2 separate regions of the Homo sapiens genome follow, and region 2 is linked to region 1. The links come from fine-mapping of genetic effects on gene expression. A gene starts in region 1. The other region holds a variant in brackets. All regions are shown on one strand. Distances are between the middles of the regions.

Region 1 (5,381 bases):
TTCTCTAAGCAGATGATTAGGAATCCTGTTTGTTTCCTCAAACAAAAAGCTGACAGGAGTGGATTTAGCAATTATGTTACTGGCAGTTCGAATGAGGTGATATGAGTAAAAGCCAGACGGCTGAGGGAGTAAATGGAAAGAAGTAGGCTAATTGGATGCAGAGCAGTCTTTTAAGTAACAGCTATCAAAAGAATGAAACCCAGTCATCTGTGACAACGTGGATGGAACTGGAGATCACTATGTTAAGTGAAATAAGGCAAGCACAGAAAGACGAACATCGCCATGTTCTCACTTATTTGTGAGATCTAAAAATCAAAACAAATGAAATCATGGGCAGAGAGTAGAAGGAAGGTACCAGAGGCTGGGAAGGGTAGTCAGGGTTGGGAATAGTTAATGGGTAAAAAAAAGTTAGAATAAGATCTACTATTGATTGCACAACAGGGTGACTATAGTCAGTAATAATAGCATATTTTTAAATAAAGAACGTAAAAATTAGCCAGGTGTGGTGGCACACCTGTAGTCCCAGCTACTTGAGAGGCTGAGACATGAGAATCGCTAGAACCTGGGAGGTGGAGGTTGCAGTGAGCTGAGACTGCACCACTGCACTCCAGCCTGGGTGACAGAGCAAGACTCCGTTTAAAAAAATAAATAAAATAAAAAATAAAATAAAAGTGTAATTGGATTGTTTGTAACTTAAAGGATAAATGCTTAAGGGGATGGATATCTCATTCTCCATAATGTGATTATTACACCTTGCATGCCTCTATCAAAACATCTCATGTAGCCCATAAATATATACACCTACTAGGTATCCACAAAAATTAACAACAACAAAATAAATAACAGCCATCAAAGGAAGAAGATAGGATAGTAAGTGAAGGGGAACTAAGGATGAAGGGAAGAAACCTTCCCCCAGGTAACACATGGGTGTGCCTGAGCATGTTTACATGTTCGGGGTAGGGCAGTGAGGAGGGAAATGCTGAAGACACAGGGGAGAAAAGATAATTGATGGAGCAACGTGGCAGAAAGACACATAATTCAAAGCAGAGTTCTAGCCTTTACAAAAGCAATGCTAGTGGCTTCCCAATTTAGGGGTTTAAGTGCCTGACCTGAACCTCTGTTCTAAACCAGGATAGCTTCATGACTGTTAATAAGGTCCCCTGACTCTAACCCCATGTTTGTATTCAAATATCTACACTTCTTGAATCCCAGATGATCTGGTGGTTTTATAATGCTCTTTAAGAAATATAGGCAGAGTGCATCTAGGTATCATGAACCTCTATTGCTCATTTGAAATCATCTGCTCTTCTGACCCCAGAGCTTCTGCAACTACTTCCTGAATCCATTCAAAGAATTGCCATCTATGAGGTTAAATCCCTAACCCATGTCCAGGGTATATTCCCCTTACATGCAGCAATGGCCCCCCACCAAGGTAGGCCCAGATCAACATGCATAAATTCCAGTAAATTCTGGATCAGTCCCACTGGGGTGTATGACCCCAGCCCCAGTTCAGCGAAGCTCTGCTCTGCAGCAGTTTGGACTACATCTGCAGTCTCTCCAGAAGCCACCTCAGGTACTGCTGTGGGTGAGGGAGTTGCAGCAACAACAGGAGGGGCCTGAACCTGTGTGAAAGAAAGCCTTGTATTATATTTATTCAGTAGCGAACACAAAGCAAGTGAGATCTTTTTATAATAACCAGTACTGGGTTCTGTTCTCTCTACTTCTTGTTCTTCCAGGTTAGCCTAGTGTCTGCAGATTTCAAGCTTAAAAAGGACATCTCATTTTTATCAATAGTTAGGAAGAGAAGTTACTTTGAGTAAGAATCCATGACTTCCCTTCATGCTGGGAAGTTATTTCTTTTATCACTGTTTTCCAAACTTCAGCCATTTGAATATCACTATCATGATTTTTGCCATATATTAACATGAAACAATTGCTTTTCTTTAAAACAGCTCAGAAAACCAAATATAACATCTCTCCTGTTGTACTTTCAATCATTTCCCCACTGAATTGAAAATCCATCCTAAGCAGAGATGCTATCATTTTGGAGAGCTGTGTGGAGCGTGGACAAGAACTCTGCTCCATATTCCCCCTGCTCCCAAACAAAACAAAATATGAAACCAACCAGGAAACACCACTCCTAATATTGCAGGAACGAAAGGCCTCTTACCTGGACTTCTGCAAAAGAGATAGCAGAGGTACTGAGGCTGCGGGGGCCGGAAGCCGCAAGGAAGAGGTAGTGTGGGCGACAGCAGCACGGGGCTGCTGGGAATAGGAGCCGTGTGGTCAGCGGTTTCCCAAGCCATTGCGAGGGCCCTGCGACGCTGTGGACCTGAGCGTGTAAAAGGATGATGGAGCCCCTTTACCGGGAGCAGAAGTCCTCGCGTGGGTGCAAACGGGATTCATTATGCTAACTCCCCAAGAAGCAGGCAGCTCGGCCACTACAGGGGAGGACATTGCTATCACCGCGCGCAGACCGCTAGCCCGAAGGCATGCAGCGGGTGGTGCCTGCAGAGCGAAGCTCGAACCTGGGTTCCCCGCATCTCAGTTATCGCAGACCCACATCGGAGGGCCCTGAGAACGAGGCCGAGGTGCTCTCGCCAGGAGCCAAGCCAATTCCAGAAGCTGACACCGGGCTGCTGGGCCCATAGTGTCGGGGACTAACCCTAGCGCGTCCTCACATGACCCGAGGTCATGACATTCAGGTCCCGGTGAGCAGGTCAGCGTCTGCTGATACCCCTAGCACGAGCTGTCCTGGGGCCTGGTTCACTGGGTCAGGGCAGCATCCCGGTGCTCTGCCCCGGGGCATCCTTACCCGACGCCCGGACTGTAGCAAGCGCAGAAGCTCCCGGCGTCCGCACATTAGTCCCATCGCCATTTTGCCCGGAAGAGGACTTGCTTTTGCGCCTGCGCAGTAAGAACCACAACCCCTCGAGAGGAAGCACTTTTGGAGGCGGGCATGAAGCCAGAATTGTAGCCGCAGATCAGGCGGTAAAAGAGAACGGAGCTTGGCGGCCATATTTGAAGTGGGTAAAAATCTGTAAAGCCACGTTACCATTAGCACGCAGAGAGCCTTTTCTGGAGATTGAAAGGAAGTTGAAGAGCTGGGTTAGCTATCATCGTAAGCTATCATCGTTAGTGATGGCGTAAACCTGGGTAATTTTCCTCTAATGTCGCGATTGTCCTCTGATTTGTAAGTTTAAAAATAGCCTCAGAAAAGGCTTGGCTGTACTTGCAGAGGATTTTTCCCACTCAATGATGTTCGATTCTTTTGATTCTTATTGCTAGGTAATATTGTAATCGCAGGTCCAGTGAAATTTGAGGGTAGTCTAGAGTCTGACAGAAATTAAAAGAAGGCAGCTTCTGGGAAATATTTTCCTCCCAGATAAAAAGACGAAGCTTCCAGAGGAGACTTCACCTTTCCATTTTTTTCTTCTGTAAGTGGGGTGGTGTGAGGACTGACCATGAGGGGACAAGTTTCCAGATGAAAAGCTCACGTGCAGGCCGGGCGCGGTGGCTCAGGTCTGTAATCCCAGTACTTTGGGAGGCCGAGGTGGGTGGATCACGAGATCAGGAGGTCGAGACCATCCTGGCCAACATGGTGAAACCCCATTTCTACTAAAAATACAAAAATTAGCCGGGCGTGGTGGTGGGCGCCTGTAATCCCAGCTACTCGGGAGGCTGAGGCAGGAGAATCACTTGAACCCGGGATGCAGAGGTTGCAGTGAGCCGGGATTGTGCCACTGCACTCCAGCCTGGGCAACAAGAGCGAGACTCCGTCTCAAAAAAAAAAAAAAAAAGGAAAGAAAAACTCACGTGCTGAAGATGGTTGAGGGCAAAGATAGAAAACACCCAAATACTTGATGATATCATTGAGCTGCTGTACCATGCTTGGAACTGCCTATCTCCAGACTTTGTTGTGTAAGTTAATTAAAGGTCTTGGCCGGGTGCAGTGGCTCATACCTGTAATCTCATCACTTTGGGAGGCTGAGGTGGTCTCGATAACTAGGTCAAGAGATCGAGACCAGCCTGGCCAACATGGTGAAATCCTGTCTCTACTAAAAATACAAAAAACAAAAAAACAAAATAACTAGGCGGGCGTGGTGGTGCATACCTGTAGTCCCAGCTACTAGGGAGGCTGAGGCAGGAGAATCGCTTGAATCCGGGAGGTGGAGGTTGCAGTGAGCCGAGGTGGAGCCACCTCACTCTAGCCTGGGCGACAGACTCCATCTCAAAAAAAAAAAAAAAAAGATGATTAAAGGTCTTTACTGTTTAGACTCTAAGTCTGTTGCTTGGGTGTTCTGTTTCTTGAAGTTAAAAGCATTCATCTTCAGGGAAAAAAGTTACTGGTCAGAAAGGTGGAGTTTGATTATGTTTGAACCCTTACAAAGTCTCTCAATATGCAGATTACTTTCTAAACAACAAATTATAGTTTCAGAAAGATACAATAACCTGAAATTATTTCAGTGACTGCTCATTTGGAACGATTATGAATGTACCTGACAGATATGGCGAAAATAGGAGGCAAAGAACTATAATACTGATTTAGTAATAATTAGTGGTATGAGCTAACACTTGCATATGTTGGATGCTATTATAAACATCAATAGATTTTTGATATGGAAACACTGATTTTTTTTTAGAGATTACTTTTAAAACTCAATACAATTAGAAGTAATTACAAATATACAGCTACAGAACACTTGGCAGGGTGACTATCTTACAGTACACTGCTACTTTGGTGGCCCCAAATGAACCAGGCTTCCCAATATTTGCACCTTTAGGAGTTCTCTTCTCTTGAGTCTGATTGGGCCTGTCACTTGCTTTAATCAATAGTAGAATGCGTTGGAAGTGATGTTATGCCAGTTTGGGACTATGCCTTAAGAAGGCCTGATAGCTTCTGTTTTTGCATTCGGGGGAAGCCAGCTGCTGTGTTAGAAGTTTGACTTCTCAGACTTACTGCCTGTGAAAAGCCCAACCAACCATGTGAAGAAGAACTGAGGTTTGGGCCAACAGCCTCAGTTGAACTCCCAGCCAGCAGTCAACACCAACTTTTGCCAGCCACGTGAAGAAGGCCATTTAAAAAGTGGATTCTCCAGCCCACTGGAGCCACCTCAGGTGACTGCGTGTGGAGCAAAGAAAGGCTATTTGAGCCCACATTGCAAAATTACAAGCAAATAAATAAAATTATTGTAGTTTTAAGCCACTAAGTTGTTTAATAATAGATAGCTAAAATGTACAGGCAAACTTGGAAGATACTGTGGGTTGGGTTCCAGACCACTACAATAAAGCCAATATCATAATAAAGTGAGTCACAGGGATTTTTTTGTTTTGCAGTGCATATAAAAGTTATGTTGGGCCGGCATGGTGGCTCAGGCCTG
Region 2 (5,381 bases), 33 kb after region 1:
TTCTACTAAAAATACAAAAAATTAGCCGGGCGTGTTGGCGGGCGCCTGTAGTCCCAGCTACTTGGGAGGCTGAGGCAGGAGAATGGCATGAACCTGGGAGGCGGAGCTTGCAGTGAGCCGAGATCGCGCCACTGCACTCCAACCTGGGAGACACAGCGAGACTCCGTCTCAAAAAAAAAAAAAAAAAAAAAGAAATTCTAGTTACTTACAAATTTTAAGTTGAGAAAAGGCCTGGAACCAGATGCCTTTAGATAAGAGGGAAGTTTAATTACTTCTAAATTCCTCAGATAAGGAGTTTTTGTCTCCAGGGCCTGCTAGATGGTCACCAGGTGATTTGCTGTTTTCATTTTTTCCCTGACAGACATTTTGGTCAAATCTTTGGCCCTTTATGTTCCCTCATGATCATGGCTACCTGCTGCCTATTGGGGTCTCAAGAGAGGGAAAATGGCACAGTGAAGAGGGGTGACAAGTACGTCTGGCTATTTCCTGCTGAAAAGGGGTGTTAAGGGTTTCGGTTGAGTTTTTCCCTTTCTTGCTCTCTGTCATGAAGGGAATGAAGGGTCATGAAAGACTTGTGGGGAAGACTGAATTCCATCAAGAGACCCCATGTGAATGGAAGTTGCTGTTGCAGGCTGGTATTGGGATTGCATAGCCATCTGTAGGTGGAATTGTTTTAATATCAAAGATGTAAACTTAACGAGAGCATTAAAAAGGCAGGGACCAAATATTAAAAGAATGACAAGGAATAAAGGTCCAGAATGGGAGAAGCCAAGTGATTTTTGGAGAGCAATCAGTAAAGGTTCTGGCCCAGTCTTGGCTACTTTGGGAAGGTGTGTGTAGCCACTTGGCTTATTAAAAAATTTTTTGGACATTGGAAGTTCCACTTCTCCATACACATTAATGTAGGTGCAACAGGTTTTGTTGATGACAGCACAGACTCCTCCTTGTTCAGCTATTAGATAATCCAGAGCTCATCTGTTATCAAACACCATTCCTGCTAGCGAGTCTAAAGACTTTTCTATTGCTGATAGACTTGCACCAGTTTTTGCTAAGGCTATTTCAAGGGAGACAGTATGTCCTTGTAGTGTGATTTCATGGTAAGCAAAACCCCCTCAAGGGGTGAGTGTTGCAATCGTTCCCACAACTCCAGCCATAATAAGTCCTAGGGCTCCCTTTCTTCTAGAATGGAATTCTGAATTGGAAGTTATATTCAAGACAGTGATTTGGATGGGAACTATTGTTCTCAGAGTGCAATCACCATAATGAAGAGAATTATCAAGGTGGGATAGGGCCAAAGCTTGAAAAGAGTTTAAATAATTATTGGCAGTGCCACAAAGCCCTAAGAGCCCAGGAGGAGCAGGTAATATAGTTGGAGGCTTTTTGGACTAAGAGGGCCACTGCAGCTTTTTTTTTTTCCCTCCCCATATGGAGTTTTTGTCTGTTGCCCAGGCTGGAGTGCAATGGCACAATCTCGGCTCACTGCAACCTCCGCCTCCCAGGTTCAAGCAATTCTCCTGCCTCAGCCCCCCGAGTAGCTGGGATTACAGGTGCACACCACACCCAGCTAATTTTTATATATTTTTTTAGTAGAGACGGGGTTTCACCATGTTGGCCAGGCTGGTCTCGAACTCCTGACCTTGTGATCCTCCCACCTCAGTCTCCCAAAGTGCTGGGATTATAGGCGAGAGCCACCGTGCTTGGACCACTGCTATTTTTAAGTAGGGGTGCCATCCCTGGGGTACCAAGTCTAAAGTTTTTGAAAAATATTCTGTAGGGCACTTAGAGGGCTCCAGATCTTGGTCTAAGACTTCCAAAGCGATTCCCTTTTGTTTGTGTACATACAAAAAGAAAGGCTTAGTCAGATCTGGTAAGGCTAGGGCTGGGGCTGAGATTAAAGCCTGTTTAAAAGTGTTTAGAGCATGTTTCATATCATTAGTCCATGTTAGAGGCTGTTCCTCAGTTCCCTTGAAAGCTTCATATAAAGATTTTGCTATTAATCTGAAGGAAGGAATCCATATTAAACCTGACTCTACCCAGAAAGGACCAAAGCTGTTGTTTATTTACTAGAGTTGTCATGTTTAAGATCTTTACGAGCACTAGAGAGGCTCTTTGTACCAAGGGTTAAGATAAGACCCCAAAATTGAACTCTTTGTGTGGGTGTTTTGGCCTTAGAAGAAGATAATTTGTATTCACAATCAGCAAGTTTGTTTAGTACTAATACTGTATTTTGGTCTGAAACAGCCTCGTTAGGACTACAGATTAGTAGGTCATCCACATACTGGAGCAGATTGCTATATGGGAGAAGCTGCAGGGTGGACAAGTCCCTAGCTAGAGCCTGTCCAAAAAGGTGGAGGCTATCTCTGAATCCCTGGGGCAGAACTGCATGAGTTAATGGTTGAGTTATTTGTGTATGTGGATATTGCCATTCAAAAGTGAACGAAATTTGGCTATCTTGGTGTACAGGAATGCAAAAAAGTCATCCTTAAGATCAAGTATGATAAACCAAGCTGTGGTGGTGGGAGTTTGTCCAAAAAGTGTGTAAGAATTTGGGACAATAGGATGAATAGAAATTACAGCTTCATCAGTGATTCTAGGGGCTGGGTGTGGTGGCCCATGCCTGTAATCCCAGCACTTTGGGAGGCTGAGGCAGGCGGATCACCTGAGGTCAGGAGTTTGAGACCAGCCTGACCAACATGGAGAAACCCCTTCTCTACTAAAAATACAAAATTAGCCAGGCGTGGTGGCGCATGCCTGTAATCCCAGCTACTCGAGAGGCTGAGGCAGAAGAATCTCTTGAACCTGGGAGGCGGAGGTTGCGGTGAGCCGAGATCAAGCCATTGCCCTCCAGCCTGGGCAACAAGAGCGAAACTCCGTCTCAAAAATAGTAATAGTAATAATAATAATAATTATAATAATAATAATAATTCTAGGCCAGGGGCAGTGACTCACCCCTCTAAGCCCAGCACTTAGGGAGGCCGAGGAGGGCAGATCACAAGGTCAGGAGATCAAGATCATCCTGGCCAACATGGTGAAACCCCATCTCTACTAAAAATACAAAAATTAGCTGGGTGTCAGTGGCCCACACCTGTAATCCCAGCTACTCAGGAGGCTGAGGCAGGAGAATCGCTTAAACT[C/T]GGCAGGTGGAGGTTGCAGTGAGCCAAGATCACGTCACTGGACTCCAGCCTGGGTGGCAGAGCAAGACTCTGTCTCAAAAAAAAAAAAAAAACAACAAAAAAAACCCAGAGCAACTTGGTAGGACTAAAAAGGAGTGGGTAAAGAAATAGCCTTCCATTTTTCAAGGGAGTGGCTGTGTGAAACAGCCTCATTGGGGTTTTTCGTCAATGCCCGTGAGGAATATGGAGGACTGGCACATTTGGTCAACATTTGAAGCTGAACCCTGTATCTATGAGGAACATTATTTCTTGTTCAGCCACAGCTGGATTGACTGAGGCTCCTCCATAGAGTTGGAAAAGGTAAGGGCCTGGATGGCCTCAAGGCCCCATCAGTCATCTAGGGGATGACTTTCAGAGGCTCGATCATAATCCAGGAATAGAGTTAGAGGTGCTTGTGCTTGCCCTTGCCCTTGTCCTCTTTCTGCAGGACCCCCTTGTTGGGTAGGTTGGTGAGGTTGTGGCTGCGACGGCCCAGAAGGAGGAGGTGGCCCCTCCTCATGAGGGAGAGAAGGACACTCGCTGTTCCAATGACCCTCTTGTTTACAATGAGGACAGGATCCTGGGGGCAGCTTTGTAACCTGGAGGTTTGGAATGTTCTCTACGCCAATATCCTGGATTTCTGCAGTGATGACAGGCCCCCATTCTGTTAGTATTATAGGGACATGCCTTGGGGTTATTAACTAACGAAAAAGAACGTGTCAATGCTGTGTTACCACATAATTAGCTTGGCGATGGCATTGTTCTTCCTCCAATTGAGTCTTTTTTATTTTTGAGGTTTCCTCCCAGTTATTGAAAACCTTAAAGGCTGTATTTAATAAAGTCGGAAAGGGAATCTGTGGGCCTTGCTCTAATTTTTGGAGTTTTTGTCTGATGTCTGGGGAAGCCTGACTTATAAAATGTATGGCCAGAGTGAACTGGCCCTCAGGGCTTTCAGGATCTAAATTTGTATATTTATGTATGGCCTCCACCAGTCTAATTTGGAAAAGGGTGGGGTTCTCAGATGGCTGCTGGGTAATTTCCGGTAATTTAGAAAAATTGGCCCGGTGCAGTGGCTCACGCCTGTAATTCCAGGACTTTAGGAGGCTGAGACAGGTGGATCATGAGGTCAGGAGTTCAAGACCAGCTTGGCCAAGATGGTGAAACCCCGTCTCTATTAAAAATACAAAAAAATTAGCCGGGCGTGGTGGCATGCACCTGTAATGCCAGCTATTCTGGAGGCTGAGGCAGAGAATTGCTTAAACCCAGGAGGTGGAGGTTGCAGTGAGCCGAGGTTGCGCCACTGCACTCCAGCCTGGGCGACAGAGTGAGACTCCATCTCAAAAAAAAAAAAAAAAAAAGAAAAGAAAAAGAAAAAAGAAAAATTAATAGGTTTTATTACAGGCTTTTTCATTCCTTCCAACAAGCAAGCTATCATGTAATCCCGCCTCTGTTTGGGCTGGCATCAGCAGCCTGATATTGCCAGCTGGTTTCTGTGTTGTGGTCACCTATTGCCCTGGCTCTATTACCATTAATTATGAGCATGAGCTTCATCTGCCCAAAAACTCAAGCTAAAGACCATATGCATGATTTTTCTTTGTGGGAACAACAAGTAGTTAATACCACATACATGTCTTGCCAGGTTAAATCAAAGGCAATAGTCAAAAGCCCACAATTCTTTAATGAGCTTAAAGGGATCCTGGCTAAATGAACCCAACTTGGATTAAATTTGTGAAAGGGACATGACTTGAATTGTTCCCAAGTTTCCATTTGTCACCTCATGGAAAGGCAAAACATTATTGGGATATTCTGAGGACTCTGTACTAGTGGCATATGTGACTCCCATGAGAGTATGTGAGGGGGATGAAGTGTCTGGATATGGAGGGGCGTTGACTCGGGGATGGAGCAAATGGAGAGGGTATAGGTGAAGCAGGTGCAGGCTGAGGAGAGTGTGACAGGCAAAAGGAAAGATCATCTACGACATCAGAATTGGTGAGAGAGTGGGAGGCAGAGGTTGCAGTGAGCCGAGATTGTGCCACTGCACTCCAGACTCGGTCTCAAAAAAAAAAAAAAAAAAGAATTGGGGAGAGAGGAAGTTCCTTGGAAGCATGTGTGACAATTTTTATGTAATTTTGGGTTTTGGGATAAAGCCAAAAAGACCTGAACATATGGGACCTCTAAATACAAAAGAAAATTACACACTTCTTTTTGAGAGTTTGTGGGTTAAAATGG

What was found. PIP is the estimated chance that this variant, and not a neighbour inherited with it, causes the effect.
Region 2: its variant is the best candidate, but not a certain one, in a credible set for the expression of OXA1L-DT in lung (TOPMed, PIP 0.71).

What each region holds. Positions count from the first base shown.
Region 1 is chr14:22,764,199-22,769,579 of GRCh38, reverse strand. It overlaps OXA1L-DT (OXA1L divergent transcript), which reads left to right and starts at 3,018. Exons shown (of 3, transcript XR_001750638.3): 1 at 3,018-3,156. It overlaps OXA1L (OXA1L mitochondrial inner membrane insertase), which reads right to left and starts at 2,892. Exons shown (of 10, transcript NM_005015.5): 1 at 2,816-2,892; 2 at 2,171-2,332; 3 at 1,409-1,622. The coding sequence starts at 2,878. RefSeq lists enhancers at 2,784-3,013, 2,607-3,170, 3,171-3,733, 3,734-4,297.
Region 2 is chr14:22,731,022-22,736,402 of GRCh38, reverse strand. The region is part of intron 1 of OXA1L-DT (OXA1L divergent transcript); the gene reads left to right. Among named protein-coding and RNA genes, the nearest start is that of OXA1L-DT, 33 kb to the left of the region's middle. The variant C/T (reference allele first, on the strand shown) is at 3,135.